Homo sapiens: one gene and its partners. The protein of the gene in region 1 purifies or fractionates together with the protein of each later gene. This does not show direct contact. Each region holds a gene or a part of one and is shown in the gene's direction. Other genes may lie near its edges.

Region 1 (7,047 bases):
GAACGCGACGAAAGTGCAGCCGAAAAACACCGCAGCCCCCATGGCTGGTCAGGTGGGAAGGGGGGTGGGGGCCTGACCAGGACAGGCAAATGGGAGGGGCGCGCCAGCTGGGGAGTCCGCGTGGGGTGGCAACGCGACCCCACGAGGGGCGCGGTGCAATGTCACCCCCAGACCCCGGGGAAGGGGAAGGGGGGGAACCGAAACCCCAAATGAAGGTCCGCGCCACTTCCTCTACGGAAGCCGAAGAGGGGACAAATCCCGGCCGCAGCCCCACGGCCACCTCCCATCTAATCCCCACCCCCGGAAGGCCAATGGAGAATCAGCGCGGGCGGAGCTGCTCGACCTGCTGGGAGTTGTAGTCGCCTTCCGAGGCCTTGACTTCGTCCTGGGAGTGGCTCGAGCCGGTTAATGGGGGTGGGCCGGGAATGGACCAGTCGAGACACCAATTCCAGGGTTCGGTTGCGCTTCCGTCGCTGTTTCCTTTCGTCACTTTGTGGGGAAAAGTGGTAGCAATCATACCTCTTCTTGAAGGGCTGCAGAGGGGGTAGATCCTGTTTGAATCTAAGGGACAAATACAAAGAGAGCACAGGATGGGGCGCAGGGAGATAGGGACGGGTATTGTTCTTACTTGAATGAGAGGAAATGGGCTAGAGCTGCTGCCTAAGAGATGAAGATTACATTAAAAAGTAGGAGCTCTTCGGACAGACTAGTATAATAAACATGGAATACAGTATATCGCTAATGAAGCCTTCATCTGTAATGACAAGAGAATCGGAGAGAAGCAAAAGGAGCCTGGAGAGAAATGTTAGGAAGGCATTTTGAAAGAGTCCGGGAGTTTAAAAGCAATTAGAGCGATGGGGTTGAAGGAAAACGACACCCCCACCCCACCCCCGCCATAAATTCCTTTTATGTCATACTTCCTCTATTTATTTTCTGAAAAATGAACCTCAGTGGTGCGTTTTCCTGAGGCTGAGAGGGGTTGTATATTAGAGTGAATGAAAGTTAAAGTAGGCTGAGCGCGGTGGCTCACCCCTGTAATCCCAGCACTTTGGGAGGCCAGGAGTTTGAGACCAGCCTGGCCAACATGGCGAAACCCCATCTCTACTAAAAATACAAAAATTAGCCAGATGTGGTGGCGCACGCCTGTAATCCCAGCTACCTGGGAGGCTGAGGGGCAAATATAGCTTGAACCCAAGAGGCAGAGGTGGCAGTGAGCTGAGATTGCGCTACTGCACTACAGCCTGGGCAACGGAGTGAGGTTCTGTCTCAAAAAAGAAAAAGAAAGTTAAGTAGGAGAGGAGGGTATTGTAATCTCATTTGGATGGGGAGAGGTTAGTCCTTAGGGAAGATGTTAGGCAAAGGAATCTGAGGATGGAAAAGAGGAAAGAAATCTGGAATATTGTTTTTGAAAGCATAATCAAAGTACCAAAAAAAACCCCACAGAAATTGTTTAAAGATAACCAAACTTCCTTTCCTTCCTGGAAGTGATTTATTATTTAATCCATATGTGCACACTCACATACATGTTTTACATGTCTTCCAGGATATTCTGGAAAGGAGCTGAGGAATAGATTGTATAGATTTACACGGAGGCTGGTCACAGTGGCTCATGCCTGTAATCCCAGCACTTTCGGAGGCCAAGGCGGCTGGATCACTTGAGGTCAGGAGTTTGAGACTAGCCTGGCCAGTGTGGTAAAACCCCATCTCTACTAAAAATACAAAAAATTAGCCAGGCATGGTGGTGCGCACCTGTAGTCCCAGCTACTCAGGAGGCTGAGCCACGAGAATAGCTTGAATCTGAGAGGTGGAGGTTACAGTGAGCTGAGATCCCACCACTGCACTCCAACCTGGGCGACAGAGCAAGACTCTGTCTCTGAAAAAAAAGAAAGAAAATATTTACATGGAAAGTCACCAGGCAAATTATTCCCTAATGAGACTAAGAGGGTAGCTGGGCGCAGTGGCTCACGCCTGTAATCCCAGCACTTTGGGAGGTCGAGGCAGGCAGATCACGAGGTCAGGAGATCGAGACCATCCTGGCTAACACGATGAAACCCCGTTTCTACTAAAAATACAAAAAATTAGCCAGGCGTGGTGGCGGGCGCCTGTAGTCCCAGCTACTCAGGAGGCTGAGGCAGGAGAATGGCGTGAACCCAGGAGGCGGAGCTTGCAGTGAGCCGAGATCGTGCCACTGCACTCCAGCCTGGGCAACAGAGTGAGACTCCGTCTCAAAAAAAAAAAAAAAAAAATTAAGAGGGTAGCGTTATCATGACCTGTGTTCAAGACTCCAGTATGTCCTGCTTCTGAGCCCAGCAGGCAGAGTAAGGTGGATAGGAATGAGACAATTCTCATGTCTTTTTTTTTTGAGATGGAGTCTCACTCTGTTGCCTAGACTGGAGTACAGTGGTGCTATCTCGGCTCACTGCAACCTCTGCCTCCCAGGTTCAAGTGATTCTCCTGCTTCAGCCTCCCTAGTAGCTGGGATTACTGGCGCCTGCCACCAAGCCCAGCTAATTTTTGTATTTTTAGTAGAGACAAGGTTTCACCATGTTGGCCAGGCTGATCTCCTGACCTCAGGTGATCTGTCCGCCTAAGCCTCCCAAAGTACTGGGATTACAGGCGTGAGCCACTGTGGCCAGCTTCATCTCTCCATTGAGCTGTTACCACAGCATCTTCTGACCATTGACAGGAGGCTGTAAACCTATCTTGTTCATGGGTGTTTCCACAGACACTTGCATAGTGCCTGACTCATAGTAGATGTTGAGCAGATACTTATTAACTTCCCTTAAGAACAAAGCAAAACTGTCTTTTCTTATTCCCTTGCCTATAAGCTCTCAATTGCCTATCACACTAGGCCTAGCACACTGTGCCTAGCACGTATGTTGCTAAGGGTTTCTGAATTGAATGAACATGGGAAACATAAAAGCAGAGGAAAGGATAAAAACTCTACACCTGTAGGACGGAATGAAGGGAACATACCAAGTGACTGAATGTGGGAGGGAAGGTGTGGCACCTGTAGCAGGGAAAGAGACTATCTGCTTTCTCCCTTCTTCCAACCTGCATCCTGGAAGTTGAGAAAGAGATGAGGTGAGGCCGGGCACGGTGGCTCATGCCTGTAATCCCAGTACTTTGGGAGGCCAAGACAGGTGGATCATCTGAGGTCAGGAGTTCGAGACCAGCCTGGGCCAACATGGTGAAACCCCGTCTCTACTAAAAATACAAAACTTAGCTGGGCATGGTGGCACGCGCCTGTAGTCCCAGCTACCAGGGAGGCTGAGGCAGGAGAATCACTGGAACCCGGGAGGCAGAGGTTGCAGTGAGCCGAGATCGCGCCACTGCACTCCAACCTGGGTGACAAAGCAAGATTCTGTCTCAAAAAAAAAACAAAGAGGTGAGGTGAGGTCAGTGTTACCAGAAAGGAAATAACTGACCATGGCTGAGAGACTTTTAGCTGAAGCCATGCAGCAGGTGCTTTAAGTCAGACAATGATGGGTAAATATTGTTCCTATTCTCTATAGCTCCAGACAGACAGAAGAAAGGGATTCTTTTCAGTCTAGAAAAATGCTCACCCCTTCCTCAGAACATTTCCACTGTGACGAAAAGAGACTGATGAAGCCTCAGAGAGAAAGGCAACTCTGGGTGGTGATGGTAAGTCAGAGACAGTGAGAGGGAGGGTGAACTTTTTATGAGGCCTTGGAGGAAGGAAGGAAAGCCGGGAGAGGGGAAACTTCTTGGTAGGCTTATTTTTTATTTTTATTTTGGTAGTGACAGTGGGAGTCTTGAATGGATCTAATCTAGGGCAGGGGGAGCTTAAGAAACATGTTTGCATCAAAACCCCCTTTTGCCTCTCAATCTGGGCAGCTCTGGCTGGGGACCGGCAGTAACCGGAGATCTAGTCAGTCAGCCAGTAGGCGGGGAGTTCTGCCCCCTGGGAGGAGAAGAGTTGCTGCAGCTCCTTCCCTGCTTTGGAGGAGGAGGGGAGGCGGGGTAAGTTTGGTGGGAAACTCTGTAATTTCCTTTTTTACTTTCACAGCAATAGTGCAGAATCCAGAATGGATGTCCTCTTTGTAGCCATCTTTGCTGTGCCACTTATCCTGGGTAAGTCCACTCCTCTCTCTGAGCTTTTGTGCCAGGTCTTCTACCATAAATGGGGTGGGAGAAAAAAAATGAGGAGTGGGTGAGAGGTACATTTCAGTGGGGAGCGATAGAGTTTTCTCATCGTGCTGGGGTCCGGTGTTGAGGGCAGAATGGAGATCTGGAAGGCAGAGCCAGGAAAGGGGGAAAAAAGCAGAGTCCTGTCAAACAAGGAGGATGGAGCTCCAGACACAAGGAGGCCCTAGCAACACTGAGCTCAGTTCTCCATCACCACGGAAGTTGAACAAGATGACAGGGGCTAAAGTAAGGGTGAAGGAGGGATTATTGGAAGGTGTCACAGTCTGAAACTAGTAGTTAGGGTATCTCCTTTCCCAGAGAATTGGAGAAAAAAACCTGCTATTAGTAAAGACACAGAAGTGGGGTGACCTTTAGGGTAGTGGAAAACTGGCTGTCTTCAGGGACAGGGTCCCAAGAGTAGCTTGGCTCCTTCCCTCCTTTGTTCCCCAGTCTACCAGGTGTGTCTCATTGTTTCCTTTTCCTCTAGATTCTTGTGTCATTAGCTTGGAGTTGAAGGGAAAGCATTCAAGGAGCTCAGGGAAGTGTTTAGCAGGAGGCCTGGAGTTCTTGATCCAGTCATATCAAAGCCACATATTTTTAGTTCTGAAAGGGAAGAAAAACTAACAGAGATGGGTCATTTTAGTCCAGCTGACTCATTTTAAGAAAGCGGATGTTAAGTGGATTGTTCAGGGTTATTCTGTTAGCAGTGAAGGTGGAACTAAAGCTCAAATCCAAAGCCTAAGGGTGTATGTTAGTTATTTGTAAGAGATACTGATAAGAAAAGATGTCTCACAAATACAGTAAGATCTGGAGCATACTAAATAGAAGACTTGGCGTTTTTAATTCCTGGTCTCTACTTTTCCTACCTTTTTTAGGTCTGGTTCTCCCTTTGGGTTTATAGTATGTGAAGGGGACTGTTTTCTGTTTTAGGAGTTCCTGGATTGAAAGGGCACGGAGTAACAGGCCTCATTACAGATATGGATCCCAGAAGACTGAGAGGGGTGTAGAGGTGCACAGGCAAGAAAGGAGTATGACTATTGGAGGAGAGAGAGAGAGAGAGAAAAGAAAGAAAGAGCAAGAAAGCTGGGAGCGCTGAGGTCATCTCCAGGTGTCCTTTTGTTAGTAAGGTGTTCCAGATGTCCCTTGACCTCTAGTCCTTGTCCCCATAGGACAAGAATATGAGGATGAAGAAAGACTGGGAGAGGATGAATATTATCAGGTGGTCTATTATTATACAGTCACCCCCAGTTATGGTGAGTACATGAAAGGCTCTTGCCCTTAGCCAACTGGAGAGAGGCTTCAGGATATTTAGTTCTGAGACTTTGCTCTTCACTTTGAAGCAGAGCAATGGGGTCAGAGAAAAATCTGGCTATGAACAAAACCTATCAAGACTCATGATGGGGCCGGGCGTGGTGGCTCACACCTGTAATCCCAGCACTTTGGGAGGCTGAGGCGGGCGGATCACGAGGTCAGGAGATCGAGACCATCCTGGCTAACACAGTGAAACCCTGTCTCTACTAAAAATACAAAAAATTAGCCGGGTGTGGTGGCGGGTGCCTGCAGTCCCAGCTACTTGGGAGGCTGAGGCAGGAGAATGGCATGAACCCGGGAGGCAGAGGTTGCAGTGAGCTGAGATCGTGCCACTGCACTCCAGCCTGGGTGACAGAGCAAGACTCCATCTCAAAAAAAAAAAATGAAAAAAGATTTATGATGGGCTGGGCGCAGTGACTCATGCCTGTAATCCCAGCACTTTGGGAGGCTGAGGTGGGTGGATCACCTGCGGTCAGGAGTTTGAGACCAGCCTGGCCAACATGGTGAAACCCTGTCTCTACTAAAAATACAAAAATTAGCTGGGCATGGTGGCACCTGCCTGTAGTCCCAGTTATTCAGGAGGCTGAGGCAGGAGAATCGCTTGAACCTGGGAGGCAGAGGTTGTGGTGAACTGAGATCACACCACTGCACTCCAGCCTGGGCGACAGAATGAGACTACGTCACAAAAAAAAAAAAAGACTCATGATGATGTTATTTTTCCAGATAGTGATTTTTAGATGGGAGGATTGCTTGAGCCCAGGAGTTCAAGACCACCCTGGACATCATAGCAAGACCTTGTCTCTATAGAAAAAAAAATTTTTTTTTTTTGAGACCAAATCTCATGCTGTCACCCAGGCTAGAGTGCAGTGGCACAATCTCAGCTCACTGCAACCTCTGCCTCTCGGCTTCCAGCTATTCTCTTGCCTCAGCCTCCTAGGTAGCTGGGACTACAGGCGTGTGCTACCATGCCCGGCTAATTTTGTATCTTTAGTAGAGACAAGGTGTCACCATGTTGGCCACGCTGGTCTTGAACTCCTGATCTCGTGATCTGCCCACCTCAGCCTCCCAAAGTGCTGGGATTACAGGCTTGAGCCATCGTGCCCGGCCAAATTTTTTTTTTTTTAATTAGCTGGGCATGGTGGCACATGGCTGTAGTCCCAGCTACTCAGGAGGCTGAGGCAGGAGGATCACTTGAGCTCAGGAGCTGGAGGTGGCAGTGAGCTATGATTGAACCAACTGTACTCCAGCCTGTTAACACAGTGAGACCCTGACTCTAAAAAAAGAAGAACTTGAAAATTTTTCAAATTTGTAAATTATTTTAGATACCTACATTGAAAATATAAATGCATACACATTCACAGTCATTTTTAACATTAGTTAAATAAAATTGGATTATACCAATAAATGTTACAACTTAAGTTAAACTATTCTGAGTAATTTCTTCCCTTTTCATTTCCAGATCTAGAGTTACATTTTTCTTTAATTATTACTGATTTTCTTTCTCCTCTGCAGATGACTTTAGTGCAGATTTCACCATTGATTACTCCATATTTGAGTCAGAGGACAGGCTGGTGAGTGAACTCTACA
Region 2 (7,026 bases), on another chromosome or scaffold:
TTTACCACCTTGTCCAGGCTAGTTTCAAACTCCTGGACTCAAGCAGTCCTCCCACCTTAGCCTGTCAAAGTGCTGGGATTACAGGCATGAGCCACCACACCTGGCCTATTTTCTGTAATTTTTTAAAGCACTAGTCTGAAATGGTTTCAGGAAATAAACTGCCCAGGTGATTGTGACACAGGGCTGTGTTGGAGAGCTACCAGATGACCCTCAGGAAGGTGATTTGCTGCCCCTCCCTCTGAGGTTCCCTTTATCTCCTCAGAGGTGGGCAGATGATTGTGTCTGTGTGTGTGTATTGTGTGTGTGTCTGTCAGTAGGGTCTAGAGACCCTCTTGTGAGTTGCTGTTACTGTGGTGAGGAGTGGGTGTCTCATAGTTGCTTACGTGGGTGGCTTCCAGTTGGGGGCTGTACATGAAGGGGTCAGATGATAGCCCTGCCTTTCCCCAGTGTCCAGATGGAACTCCTGAGGCCATACAGGTCCCAACACAAAGTGATGTGCAGCTCATGTGTTTTGTTATTCCTGGAAGCTTGACTTTGTAGTGGAAGATTTGTACAGTGTTTTTTTTGTTTTGTTTTTTGTTTTTTGTTGTTGTTGTTGTTAAACCTATTCCATTTTTATTCAATTCGGTAATTGTATCTTTTTTTTTTTTTTAAGATAGAGTCTTGCTCTGTTGCCCAGGCTGGAGTGCAGTGGCGTGATCTCAGCTCACTGAAACCTCTACCTCCTGGGTTCAAGCGATTCTCCTGCCTTAGCCTCCCGAGTAGCTGAGATTACAGGTGCCTGACACCACACCAGCTAACTCTTGTATTTTTAGTAGAGACGGGGTTTCACCATGTTGGCCAGACTAGTCTTGGACTCCTGATTTCAAGTGATCTGCCCGCCTCAGCCTCCCAAAGTGCTGGGATTACAGGCGTGAGCCACTGCGCCCAGCCAATTGTTTGTATCTTAACTGATTGATTACCTAGCCCCACTCATCCCTGGATGGCAGGCAAATATAGATGTCTCTTGAACCCATCTATTTCAGGATTACACATCCTGCAAATTCTTGCTTTCCCAGATGATGGAGGCCACACATTAAGGCATAAGCAAGGTGGGGCCACCAGAGGAAATCTTTCTTTCTGGGCAAGAAGGTGAGCTGCACTTCATCAGGTGAATGATTGAGCCTGGCCCCATATACCCCTGAGATGTGCCCTCTGCCCTCAGTGCATGGCATCATCTCAGAGGCATTTCAGAAGAAAAATAATAGTTTTTTCCTGTTCTAAGGGAATGAAAAGAGTATTTGTTGCACTTAGAAATGTCACGAGGACGCGTGAGTGAGCACATCCCTCTGCTGTGCCTCTGGTGTCCTGGTCTGGCCTGGCAGTCTCAATCACAGAAGCTCTCTTCAGTTACACCTTAGCATTTCCTTGGCCCCCATCTAACTAGTCACCCTCATCCTTATTCCCATCCTAGAGCTCTGCCTTTTCCAGTTGTTTTCCTTTTCAGAAATTCAAGCTTACTTTTCAGCCCTTGTTGTTCCGGTTGGTTGACCCTGGAGCAGGATTTCCGTGCACATACCTTGTTGGCCCTGCCACCCGTGCAGCGGCACAGGACCCCACACTCAAAAGGGCCCGTGCTTGGCTTCATGCTCTGTTCTCACTGTCTTGAAATTTCTGATAATTCTTGAACAAAAGGCCCTACGTTTTCATGTTGCACTTGGGCCTGAAAATTATGTAGCCAGCCCTGAGCCCAAGGGTGAAGTCAGCCCCGGGGTGTGTGCTGGGCAGCAATCTCCTGGGCCCCCTGGCCGAGCTGGGCTGCCTTCCCTGTGGTCAGCTCCTTCAGTCCCCTTCCACCCAGACACTTGCTTAGCTTCAGTTAGCTAAAATATGACCTCTGACTCTTGGCTGATTGCCCAAATTGCTGTCACCCTGACCCAAACTCTTTGGTTTTTGCAAATGCAATCACTTCCATTTTTGCAGCCTGCCCCACCCCCAGCCCATCTCCCTGCAAGATTTACAGAGTAGCAGCTGCTGTCGTCCCTCTGCACACAGACAGCTGACTTGCCTGCTGATTGTGAACATCCCAGTAATCCAAGTGCTAATGGTATTTATTTAGTCCAGCCGGCTTAGCCCTGAACAAGGTTTATTCTCATTTATCGCATCGGAGATGAGCTACGTCCTTAATATCCTTCTGTTGACTTTGAGCACACCAGCGCCACTGATGTCACTTTGAGGCGTGCCAGGCCCCCGCCCCCTTAACTCAGATCCCCAACTGTCAGGACACCTACCTTCCAGCCAGCAGGACTGGTCCCTCCAGGGGTGGGCCGCAGCTCTGGTCCAGAGTCCATAGGCTGGAGGAGGATGGGGCTGCCATACATGATATGTGCTCGAGGCATCCAGGCCAAATAAAGCTGTGCTCTCAAAGATGTGGTCTGGCCTCTTTGTGTAGTGAGCCTACTGTAATTATCTTTTGGCCACAGTGCATTGGCTAGCAGTGTGGCATTTTGGCATTCATTAACTGTTCTGTCTTTTACATGGGTAGTCCTAGCTCTGCCTCACAGGTGAAAACTTGCCCAAGGCCATGAGCCATTCATTGCTTATGAGATTCCCAGCAAGGGTCCTGCAGGCCCTGGTCCTTGCACATCCAGAGGCCTCACTCTGAGCTGTTTTGGTAGTTGCCTCCCCCAGCCCCAGGCTGTGAGCATTTAAAGCCCAAGGCAGAGCTGACTGGCGAGAGGGTCTGTTTCTAGGAGCAGATTCTACCCTTGGTGGGTGATTGCTCAGGAAACCTTCAGCTCTACTGGCCCTGCCTGGATGGACTGAGGAGCAGCTGGAAGCGCAAGCCTCATCTTCCCCCTCTTCCTCTGCTGTGTTTCTTCAACCCCTTGCCTGGGCAGCCCTAAAAGGCCACTTCACAGGGTGGCCTTTTAGGAAACTCCTGAAGCTGTGGGAACCCTGGGGTAAGGCCTGGAGTTCCCAGGGTTCCATGGGTACCTCGTTTAAGCTGATCATGTGAAGAGGCCAGGCAGGGCATGGGCCCAGGGCTGCCAAGGCTGTGCACTGTCACAGCCCATGTTTGGCCCATGGTCCTGCCGTACCCACAGACTTGGCTGTGGGTGAAAACATGAATTTATTGCCTTATGAACCTGATTTCAGCAATTTACAAAAGGTCAGACTTTCTCTTTTCTCTCCGATTTACTTATCTGATGTTGGAGCTCTCTTCTCTCCTACTCTAAATGGGGTGGGAAGAGCCTGCCTGAGGGGGACAGAGTGGGTGGGACTGGGCTGCTGCTGGCTTGGCTGTGGGTGGCTCCCGACCCACATCAGCCCACCTTCTGAAGAGAAGGGACTTCTCTTTGCCCTGGTCACAGTGCAGAAAGTGGAAGGGCTTTGGTTGCCCAGCCCTGGGTGATTAACTGAGGCTGCGATGATGGGGTGCTGTGATGAGCTTTGTGCTGTCTTTGGAGGGCCTTGTCTCTGCTGCTCTGAGGGCCCATGAGGGATGGGACTCCTTGGCAGTGCTCCCAAAGGCTGATGCGATGTCAGATCTCTCAGCCCCCTTGGGGAAGCAGCATTTGATGTTTGTGTGAATCTCTCAGCGTGGTCGTCTTCTCTTCCTGGACCCTCCTGTCATGGGTGAGCGTTCCTTAGGCACATGATGGCAGAGACAGCCCTAATTAGCTCATGCTTTGATGAAACAGCTGCCTGTCTCAAGTCGTGGGGGGCAGGGGAGCAGCTCAGCTCCCAGGCCCCCCTGCGCCAGCGCCTGCCTGCCTATCTGGAGAGGAGCTGTCAGCCTCCCTTCCCCAGGGACTCTGGCCCATCTCCAGGCTGCTCTGCAGACACAGGGGTGGAGTTGCTGTGGGACGGGCTGGCACCCACCCTGTACTTCCTTTCTGGCTGAGAGGCTACAGAGTGACACGTGGTACAAAGGAGCTTTTCTCTTTAGAAAGCTGGCTCAGCGTGCTCGGTCTGCTCTGGACCTTGAAGCTTGTTCCTGGTCAGAATAGAAGTGGGGAGCTATCTTCATTCCATTCAGCCAGCTTTGGGGGCACGCCTGCTGTGTGTCGGGCCCTCTCCTGTACGGTGGCACAGTGTGTCTTTTCTGGGTTTAGGACCAGGAGCCAGCTCCTTCTGATTTGTCTTTGTTTCCTTATACCCTGGCTCACTCTCAAGGACACCGTGAGGGCCCCCTGGCCAGGAGGGTTGGGAGTTAGGAGGAACAGGTGCTTTTTGGGTCTCTGGGAGCTTGTGGTCATGCCAAGGGCAGGCAGCCAGAGGCATGCGGTGGCTTTGGTAGACTGCGGTGTCCTTTGTGGGCTAGTTGGATGGGTGTGACAGCCACCATCTGACTGCTGGCTTGGCCCCTTCACTTGTTGTTGGCCTCAGGCTTTTGTGTGCCTGTCCCCTCTTTTCTCTGGGGCCTCACATGTGGGCTGCTGAGAGGGGAGCCCTGACCTGCCCAAGGGCCTGACTATCTGGTCCCTGTGCTTGACACTTGCTCCTTAATTGATCCCTAATGCAATCTTGAAAAGCAAGGAGCCTGCAAAAGGGCATCCTGTGAGGGATCCCGGCCTTGTCCCCTGCATGGCACCCTGCCCTGATGGGGGTCCCCGCCAGGCCCCTCATCCCTTCATCTGGGAGGTCTGGGCCTGAAATGTTTTAATCACATCACTATTTCTCTAGCCCAGAATGGGGAGAGGAGTTCCAGAGGCAGCTCAGGGTTTTGAGTACTTTAGTGCAGTATGTTTATCTATTGATATGTTCATGGTTGTGTACACGTGTTGTTCATTCGTTCGTTCGTTCAGTCGTTCATTCATTCCCTACTGTCCAGGGACCTGTGACGTGGCAGGCTCTGTGCTGAGTGCTGAGAATACAGGGCAGAGAAGCTGACAGTAGCTGCTGTTATAGAGTGGGAGCCCAGTGGGAGGCATTGGGTTGTCCTGTTTTAGGATCTGCCTGGGTATTCAGAGGCTCCTGTCTCTTGCACTTTCTTCCTGCCTTCTCCCGCAAGCATTTTCTATGTGCAGTCTGAGTGCCGACCCAGGAGAGGAGAGGGATGGGGCCCTGGCCTTGGGGCACCAGACCCAGAGGGGAACAGACCCATTAGTAATTGCCCCAGTGTGTGATGTGCTTGGGTCATGGAGGAAGGAACATCCGGCACTGGCTTGGGAAGCGCCAAGAAAGGCTTCCTACGGGAGGGACGCTGAAGGAGCACCTTCGGCATCGAAATGTCTTTACAGTAGTAGAGGTTGTTCACCTTCCCAGCCCACTCCAGCCCCTTGGCTGCTGGGGAGTGGGGGCTGGCATGGGAGCACTCAGCCCTGTCACCTGTGCTGTGGGCCGCTGTTCCCACGTGGGTCTGTGCCAGATGGTCTTTGTTTCCCCAGCTGAGTTTGACTTGCCCCGTGTGGGAACCTCTGTTGTTCTTGTTTCTCCCCAGGGATGGCTGACATGGGCTCAGTTCCCTGACCATCCGATCCCTGGGCTGGGCAGGGTAGTCATGCTGTCCTGTGCTTCTTCCCCAGCAACCCCAAGGTCCAGGTGGAGGCCATCGAAGGGGGAGCCCTGCAGAAGCTGCTGGTCATCCTGGCCACGGAGCAGCCGCTCACTGCAAAGAAGAAGGTGTGTTTCCATGCCCTTCCTCCTGCCCAGCCTCCAGGACACGTGTGGGGCCTGAAAGGAAAGGGTTCCTGTCCAGGCTGTGCATGTTACCATGGGGGCCTGAGCATCATCTGCTGGGTGGCACAGGGGGAGAAGTTACACTCAACTAAAGCAGATGGCAGTGTGCCGAGGTGACTAGAGGCCTGGGGGCAGCTCCTGTGCTGTGGCCTTGGGCCCTACTCCTGGCCTCCCACCCTTGGCCTCTGTTTACCTCCCATTTACTCACTTGGTAATGTTGAAGGTGTCTGAGTCCCTCCTGGCCTCACAGTCCTGGGTTCTGGGGTATAGCTGTAACTGAGGTGGGGCCGGGAGGAATGGGGACTAATTTGGGGCACCTCTGCCTGCCTTCCCTGGGCCTCAGGGCAGGTCCAGCTCGCTTGGCCCCTCACCTACCCCTGGGTCTGTGCCCCCAGGTCCTGTTTGCACTGTGCTCCCTGCTGCGCCACTTCCCCTATGCCCAGCGGCAGTTCCTGAAGCTCGGGGGGCTGCAGGTCCTGAGGACCCTGGTGCAGGAGAAGGGCACGGAGGTGCTCGCCGTGCGCGTGGTCACACTGCTCTACGACCTGGTCACGGAGAAGGTGAGTGCCCAGGCCCACCCAGTCTCCTCTTGTTTGCTTTGTGTGTGCTTCTGGGTGGATGGACAGACAGATGGAAGAGACTGCGGACGTCACTTGTTTGCTTTGTGTGTGCTTCTGGATGGATGGACAGACAGACAGTTGGAAGAGATTGGGGACGTCAGGGAGTATGTCATGTGAGATGTGGTGGCTAAGCTGAAACCTGAGGGCTGATGAGGAGTGGGAGGTGGCCCTGCCAGCCATGGTCACGGCCAAGTGTGCAGGCAGAGGGCTCAGTATGAGGCAAGCCTTGGAGCAGCCGAGACCAGGCCCCGAGGGGACAAAAGGCTGAGGGGGTAGAACAGCCCAGAGCTCCTTCGAATGGCACTCACTCTTCGGATTCTAGAAACGTGGAGGTGCCTCCTCTGTGAGCTTTGGCTCTGGGCAGGGCCTCAGAGTGGCTGCCCTTGAGAGTCTCAGGGACCCAATTGCTTGCCACTTGGGAGGAGACTTGGTGCCCAGCCCTGTTTGCAAGCTTGAAGAAGCATCTTAATTAAGGAGGAGAGAGGAAAACCAGCCAGGCCTGGATTCTTAATTCAGCTACTGCAGAGAGCATTGGCAGGGCTTCCTCAGTTGCCTCTCTCGGGCCACACGCTCCCCAGAAGAGCCGCATGCCGACTAGTGGAGCAGGGCTGGGCAGCCGCTGGAACTGCTGCCGAATGGTGGAGGCTGGGCCCCTCACTCCCTCTGCACACGCCTCCCCCAGGCCTTCTCTCCCAGGCAGTGTCGGGATGGCTGTGGCCACCTCTGTCCATCACTGTCTCTC
Region 3 (7,026 bases), on another chromosome or scaffold:
AAGAATGAAGTACTGATACGTGCTACAAAATGAATGAACCTTGAGAACATTATGCCAAGTGAAAGAAGCCAGACACGAAAGGCCACATATTGTCTGATCCTATTTATATAAAATGTCCAGAATAGGTAAATCCAGAGCACAAAGTGGGTTAAGGGTTGCCTAGGGCTGGAGGGTGTGGGAGTAAATGGGGATTAACTGCCAATGGTGCAGGGTTTCTTTCTGGGGTGATAAAAATGTTCTAAAATATGTTACAGTGATGGTTATACAACTTTGTGAATATATCATACTAAAAACCATAGAATTTTACACTAAAAATGGGTGAATTTGATCATATGTGAACTATATGATATACTCTTTAAAAAATATATTTAAATTCCTCTTATGTCTCCCTATTGATTAGAAGGAAAAGTTGCCACCTCTCTGACCCTTCTTCTGCAGCCACATCTCCCTCTGACCATAATCAAGAAGTACTCCTTGCATTTATGAACTCATGTCATTAGATCGGGCCCATCCAGATAAATCTGAGATAATCCTCACATCTTACAGGTCTTACCTATAATCATACCTGCAGAGTCCCTTATGGCATGGAAGGTGATGTATTCATAGGTTCTGGGAGATTAGGATGTTGACATTTTGAGGAACCATTATCCTGCCTATCATACCCTGTTTTATACTTCTTTCTATTGCATAAGAGTCTCACACATGTTGACAGATGGATGGAAAAAATATATTATGCAGGTACTAACAGCAGCAACAATGACAGCTAAAAACTGAGCTATCTATACATCAGATAAAGTAGATTTAAAGGAGGAAAGCACTATTAGAATTAAAGAGGGAGTTTTCAAAATAATTATCCAGTCATAGAAGAGATTTTTAACATACCTCTCTCAGTAACTGATAGAACAAGCAAACAAACAAAAATGTCCATAAAGATATAAAAGATTTGAACACCATAGTTAACAAACTTGACCTAAATGATATACAGAGCATTGAGCCCAACAACTTCAGACTACATGTTTTTTACATTGGTGCTTGGATAATTCATAGTCCGTATTAGAAATGAAAATGTTGAATATCTGTTATTCAAAAGGTTATAAAAAAAATAACAAATTAAGCCCAAAGAAAATAAAAGGAGGGAAATAATAAAGATAAAAGAAGTTAATGAAATAGAAAACAAACATACTACAGATAGGATCTACAAGGCCAAAAGTTTGTTGTTTGAAAAGACCAATAAAATCAGGCCAGGTGCGGTGACTCACGCCTGTAATCCCAGCACTTTGGGAGGCCAAGGCGGGCGGATCATGAGGTCAGGAGTTCCAGACCAGCCTGGCCAACATGGTGAAACTCTGTCTCTACTAAAAATACAAAAAATTAGCTGGGCATGGTGGCATGCACCTGTAATCCCAGCTACTCAGGAGGCTGAGGCAGGAGAATTGCTTGAACTCCAGAGGCAGAGGTTGCAGTGAGCCAAGATCGCACCACTGCACTCCAGCCTGGGTGACAGAGCAAGACTCCATCTAAAAAAAAAAAAAAAAAAAGACTAATAAAATCAATTAAACACTAGCAAAACGTATCTTGGGAAAAAATGAAAAGCATGAATTGCCAATATCAGGAATAAACAGGCAATATTACTACAGATGCTACAAACATTTAAAAGATAATACAAAACAAAAGTTCACATGTACTACACAAATTCCTAATAAAATACAAGTTATCAAAACTGACAAAGGGAGAAATAGAAGATCTAAATGGTCCTATACCTGCTCAGGAAATTAAATCAATAATTTCAAACCTTCCCACAAAGAAAACTCTAGGCCTAGATGGCTTTACCAACAAACTCTTTTTTGTGGATGAATAGTATTCCATTGTGTCTATATATCACATTTTCTTTATCCATTCATCTATTGATGGACACTTAGGTTGATTCCATATCTTGACTATTATAAATAGTGTTGCAATAAACATGGAGGTGCAGGTAACCCTTTAGTATACCGATTTCCTTTCGTTTGGATAAATACCTAGTGGTGGGATTACTGCACTGTATGGTAGTTCTATTTTTAATTTTTTGAGGAACCTCCATACTGTCTTCCATAATACCTTTACTAATTTACACTCCCACCAACAGTACACACATACATTTTTAAAGCATAAAACAGTGCTATATATTATCCCTTGGCACATATGTATTCTGCATTTTAAAATGGCTGAAGGATGCACTGAAGTCACAATAGCAGCAGCCTCTAGAGGAGTAAATGAAAGGACAGGGTTTGAGGATAAGAACAAAGGAGACTTCAACTTCATTTTTATTGTCCAGTTTCTTTTATTTTTTTTAAAAAAAGGCAAACATGGTAAAATGTTAACATCTGTTCATTTTGGGTGATGGCTCATAGGGTGTTAGTCATATTATTCTTTGTAATTTTCCCTTTGTTTAATTTCTCAAAATGAAAACAATAAAGTCAAGATAATAGTATCTTTCATAGTTTAGTCTTAGGCTTATTTATTGTTTAGGTATTTTATGTTCCTGTTTGTCTTAAGAAAAAAATGTGTATAAATATAAGTATAGATGAGATAGTTAAATTTCCTTTTTTTGTTTGTGTTCACAAAACATGCTTGTTTTATTTAACATTCTTTGGTATCAAAATGTGGCCTTCATACAAACTTGTGAGGAGTAAACCATGAGGGTTCACAGTTTTACCACAGTCTGTATGTTAGCAACCATTTCCTGTGATAGACATGCTCATGCACCTCAAGTACTAGAAGTATCCATTTGTATTGGAGCCAAAATATCCGCAAGCAGAGAAACAAGAAGTCAAAAATATTTTCCTCTTTGGTGCTAAAGATTTGCTGCTGTGTGATTGTTGAGACTGAAGTTCTGAAAGCACCAGTGTTTGCCGGATCTGTCTCCAGCTTGTCTCTACAAGGTCATTTCCAAAAGACTGTCAAAAGAATGGCATGTCCCGCCTTTTCCACCACCGACACACCCTGCATGAAAACCCCAGGAGCACAGAAGTCCTGCTTGGGTGAGGATAAGGGCTCTCTCAAAGTCTATTATCGAAGGAAGGCAGACAGATGGGTTAACCACTCCAATGGAGTCTATACTTTTACAGACATATCACATATTATGACAATTAATTATTAGGCTGGTGGTTCAGCAACCTTTCGAAGTGATCCCAAGATGATTGCTGTGACCATATTTGAAAAGCTAACAGATAAATGTGGGCTTAAAACAGACTATATGTTATTCAGCTAGGCCTCAACCATAGGCATAAGTAGGAGTGAGGTGAGGGCCCTTGTGGACCCACCAGGGTCTTCCACAAGAGTAGAACTCTTGCCTTGTTCACTCCTTTCATAATCAGGCAAAGGAAGGAGTTATTCAAAAGGAGGAACTGAGCATGTTCAACCGAGACCCTTTTTGCTGTCCAATTTCCAGCCAGCCTGTCACCTGGATATATGTAAGCACTCTGGTCTGCTCTTGGCTGTGTGCTCTAAGGGAGCCCACTGGGTGTTCAGCAAGATCAATGGTGAGGATTAAATCTTTCTAAGTCAAGGGTCAGTTACAAACAAGATCTCTCTGCTACAGATCTGAAGCTGTATTCTCTCCAGTCAATTTTGTCAGTAACAAAAGCAGTATTTTTTGTTCCATCTGTCTATCTTCTACCTCTTAATTGGTTTCAAACTTAAGAGGTGGTAGAGATTAGTAATTGCTCCCCACAAAAGCAAAAAACCAACCTGATGATCAATTAAGATCTCAAAAATGATAAATTAATATAATCCATGATACCAGCCAAAAATTTGTATACCAAATTTGTTCTTACCCCCATAGTTATCCTGTCTGAATAGTTAACTGAGCACTGCTCACTTTTAGATTCCTTAAGAGTTGTTAAAAAATAAGTCTTTGTACTCTATCATGGCATGCATGAACTCTCATAGCTTGAAATGACTGCATGAAAATGTACATTTTATAATTTCTTATACTATTTACATAGGTATAAGTATACACAGAAAGTGTGTTTAAATGTTTAACAGCCAAAAACAAAAACCAAAAAAAAGTCACTCTGCTGTAACAGAACACTGTTCTGCATATGGCTAGCTGTACATTGGCAGAACATAGCGATTTTAAGGATGAATTAGTGTTGTAATCTCTTTGGGATTTCCTTTATATTTGCGGTGGTTTATGACTGACATTTCATGTAACTATAGCTTTCTGTTTGGATTTAATAAAAGATTCATTTCTGTGGCAAGATACACATTTGCACTCCAGTGTTGAATAAAAGCTACTGTTCTGCAAGGGTATAAAATGCTGATTTATAACAACACGTTCCAATAACAGTGATCTAATTCTTTCAAACTATTTCTTCCCAGGTCCCAGGAACAGCATGGCTCCAGCAAAGGATGACTCTTCTCTTCCAGAATATTCAGCCTTTAACACATCTGTCCATGCTGCAATTAGACATGGAAATTGGAAACTCCTCACGGGCTACCCAGGTAGAGTCCTTAGCTTAGCAAACTTCCCTTCCCGTGGTAGACAAAGCAGGGCTGTGTCCTCAGGGCAGTATCTCCAGTCTATCTGCCCTCCTGGGATTTGATTCCCACGGCCATTTCTCTGGAAAGAGAGGACATTATCACTCTTGTTCTAACCGTTTCCCACCTCTTCCTCTGTGGCTCCTCCTCAAGGCCCCTAAGCCCTACCACTTACCTCACTTTGCTCAGATACCTGAAATCTTAATTTGTCTTTCTAATCTTTCATGATCCCTCCTGATATATGTCCTAGAAAGACAACTATTTATTCAGGGTTTTCTTTTCCCAATTCTAAGACTCCGCCTGTTCCCAATTACACAGCTTCCATCATTGTCATGGTGCAAGTAAGCTTTCCCAGTGGATCATCAAGGAGAAGCTTACCGAAGTAACAAATGCCTTTTGCAAAACATATCTCTGGGGCTGCTGAATGAGGAGATAGGAAGAAATGGTTTAACCTACTCGTCCTAACCAAAAAAAAAAAAAAAAAAAAAAAAAGAGAGAGAGAGAGAAAGACAGAGAGAATTAACTGTAGCAGGGGTGAAAGGAAGAAATGTCACTCTTATGCTTCATGGAAAATACGGATTTTAAATATATGTGGCTATCAAGCACAGCACATTTAGCTAACAAAGAGAGTCTCTGAGAGCTACACCCTCAACCAGTGGTATAGCTGGGGAAGGAGGTTGCTCCTCTGATTATATTCTCTAAGAGTGATATCTTTTCAATACTTTTAAAATATGTGGGATGATGGTTAAGGCTGTGATGTAATTAATCAATGTTTACAATGAGAACATTTTTGGCGTTTGCAATATGACAAGTCTTTTTTGACTGGGATTGTCCCATGTATTGCAAGACTTTAGCATCACTAGCTCATGCCCACTAAATGCCAGGAGCACCCCTATGCCCTAGTCCTTGTGACAAGGACATACACACATGCACACACGTTTCTGGGTGTCCTTGCTTGTGAAGCAGTGAGACATGTCTAGTTAAAGCACCAGAAGTCAAGTCTGAGAAGCATCTAGAGACAGCATCTAGGGCCGCATCTTTTTATGTTTCCACACCCACAACCCAGTGCAGCCTTGGCCTCAGACTCCTTCCCTGAAATTAGAACCTGCCTCTGTGCTTCTCCCTCAGTAAACTGTTTTGTTTTCTTTGCTAGGCTGTGGTTACTGGTTCCCTCCACCGTCTCAATACAATGTTTCTGAGATACCCTCATCAGACCCACCAACCAAGACCCTCTGGCTCTTTGATATTGATCGGGACCCTGAAGAAAGACATGACCTGTCCAGAGAATATCCTCACATCGTCACAAAGCTCCTGTCCCGCCTACAGTTCTACCATAAACACTCAGTCCCCGTGTACTTCCCTGCACAGGACCCCCGCTGTGATCCCAAGGCCACTGGGGTGTGGGGCCCTTGGATGTAGGATTTCAGGGAGGCTAGAAAACCTTTCAATTGGAAGTTGGACCTCAGGCCTTTTCTCACGACTCTTGTCTCATTTGTTATCCCAACCTGGGTTCACTTGGCCCTTCTCTTGCTCTTAAACCACACCGAGGTGTCTAATTTCAACCCCTAATGCATTTAAGAAGCTGATAAAATCTGCAACACTCCTGCTGTTGGCTGGAGCATGTGTCTAGAGGTGGGGGTGGCTGGGTTTATCCCCCTTTCCTAAGCCTTGGGACAGCTGGGAACTTAACTTGAAATAGGAAGTTCTCACTGAATCCTGGAGGCTGGAACAGCTGGCTCTTTTAGACTCACAAGTCAGACGTTCGATTCCCCTCTGCCAATAGCCAGTTTTATTGGAGTGAATCACATTTCTTACGCAAATGAAGGGAGCAGACAGTGATTAATGGTTCTGTTGGCCAAGGCTTCTCCCTGTCGGTGAAGGATCATGTTCAGGCACTCCAAGTGAACCACCCCTCTTGGTTCACCCCTTACTCACTTATCTCATCACAGAGCATAAGGCCCATTTTGTTGTTCAGGTCAACAGCAAAATGCCTGCACCATGACTGTGGCTTTTAAAATAAAGAAATGTGTTTTTATCGTAATTTATTTCCCCCCAGCCATTGCTCACTCTGTCTAGACTTCCTGCCACTTCCAATTCTTCTGTGGCTTTTCCTGCCTTTCCTTTTGACCTCAGTAGTCCTATCCCTGGGAAGGCCACTTTGCTTCTCTACCTGAGCACCCCTGATTTCTGGAACGCTGCTGAGCCCTGCCTTACTTTTGCCCCTAGGGCTGAAGCTAGAGGCCTCCCCGTAATAGGCGGTGGAGTTGCTCTGTGAGGATGTTCATGGTAGACACTAAGAGGGCTGGGTGGGAGATGCTTGGCTCTGTGGCATCTGTTCAGCGAGGCTTTTCCTATATTGCATGGAGTTAGTCATTGTGATTGTAGCTTTATTTCATAATATATTAAGACTTGCACTGCTATTTACTAGCAGTGAGAAGAAACCTCAGGAAAGGATATGAAAAAGCAAGTGGCCAGTGTCTGGGATACTGGGCCTTGGTAAAGCAG

Evidence for each region. Proteins that work in one complex are often made in the same cells at the same time.
Region 2: the proteins of C1orf54 (region 1) and SIL1 purify together in Homo sapiens (co-immunoprecipitation; 2 studies listed by BioGRID and IntAct, with this or other methods). This does not show direct contact.
Region 3: the proteins of C1orf54 (region 1) and ARSB purify together in Homo sapiens (co-immunoprecipitation; 2 studies listed by BioGRID and IntAct, with this or other methods). This does not show direct contact.

The regions. Positions count from the first base shown.
Region 1 is NC_000001.11:150,268,769-150,275,815, forward strand, and holds the start of C1orf54 (uncharacterized protein C1orf54 isoform b precursor), read left to right. Parts: upstream 1-4,021; 5' UTR 4,022-4,049; coding exon 4,050-4,095; intron 4,096-5,318; coding exon 5,319-5,402; intron 5,403-6,972; coding exon 6,973-7,031; intron 7,032-7,047. Other genes in the region: APH1A (gamma-secretase subunit APH-1A), read right to left, coding at 1-42; uncharacterized protein LOC124904414, read right to left, coding at 288-561.
Region 2 is NC_000005.10:138,950,369-138,957,394, reverse strand, and holds part of SIL1 (nucleotide exchange factor SIL1 precursor), read left to right. Parts: exon of another isoform or gene 1-5,510; coding exon 5,511-5,607; intron 5,608-6,059; coding exon 6,060-6,224; intron 6,225-7,026.
Region 3 is NC_000005.10:78,779,311-78,786,336, reverse strand, and holds part of ARSB (arylsulfatase B isoform 1 precursor), read left to right. Parts: intron 1-2,839; exon of another isoform or gene 2,840-3,020; intron 3,021-4,362; coding exon 4,363-4,485; intron 4,486-5,674; coding exon 5,675-5,940; 3' UTR 5,941-7,026. UniProt on the Homo sapiens protein: Removes sulfate groups from chondroitin-4-sulfate (C4S) and regulates its degradation. Involved in the regulation of cell adhesion, cell migration and invasion in colonic epithelium.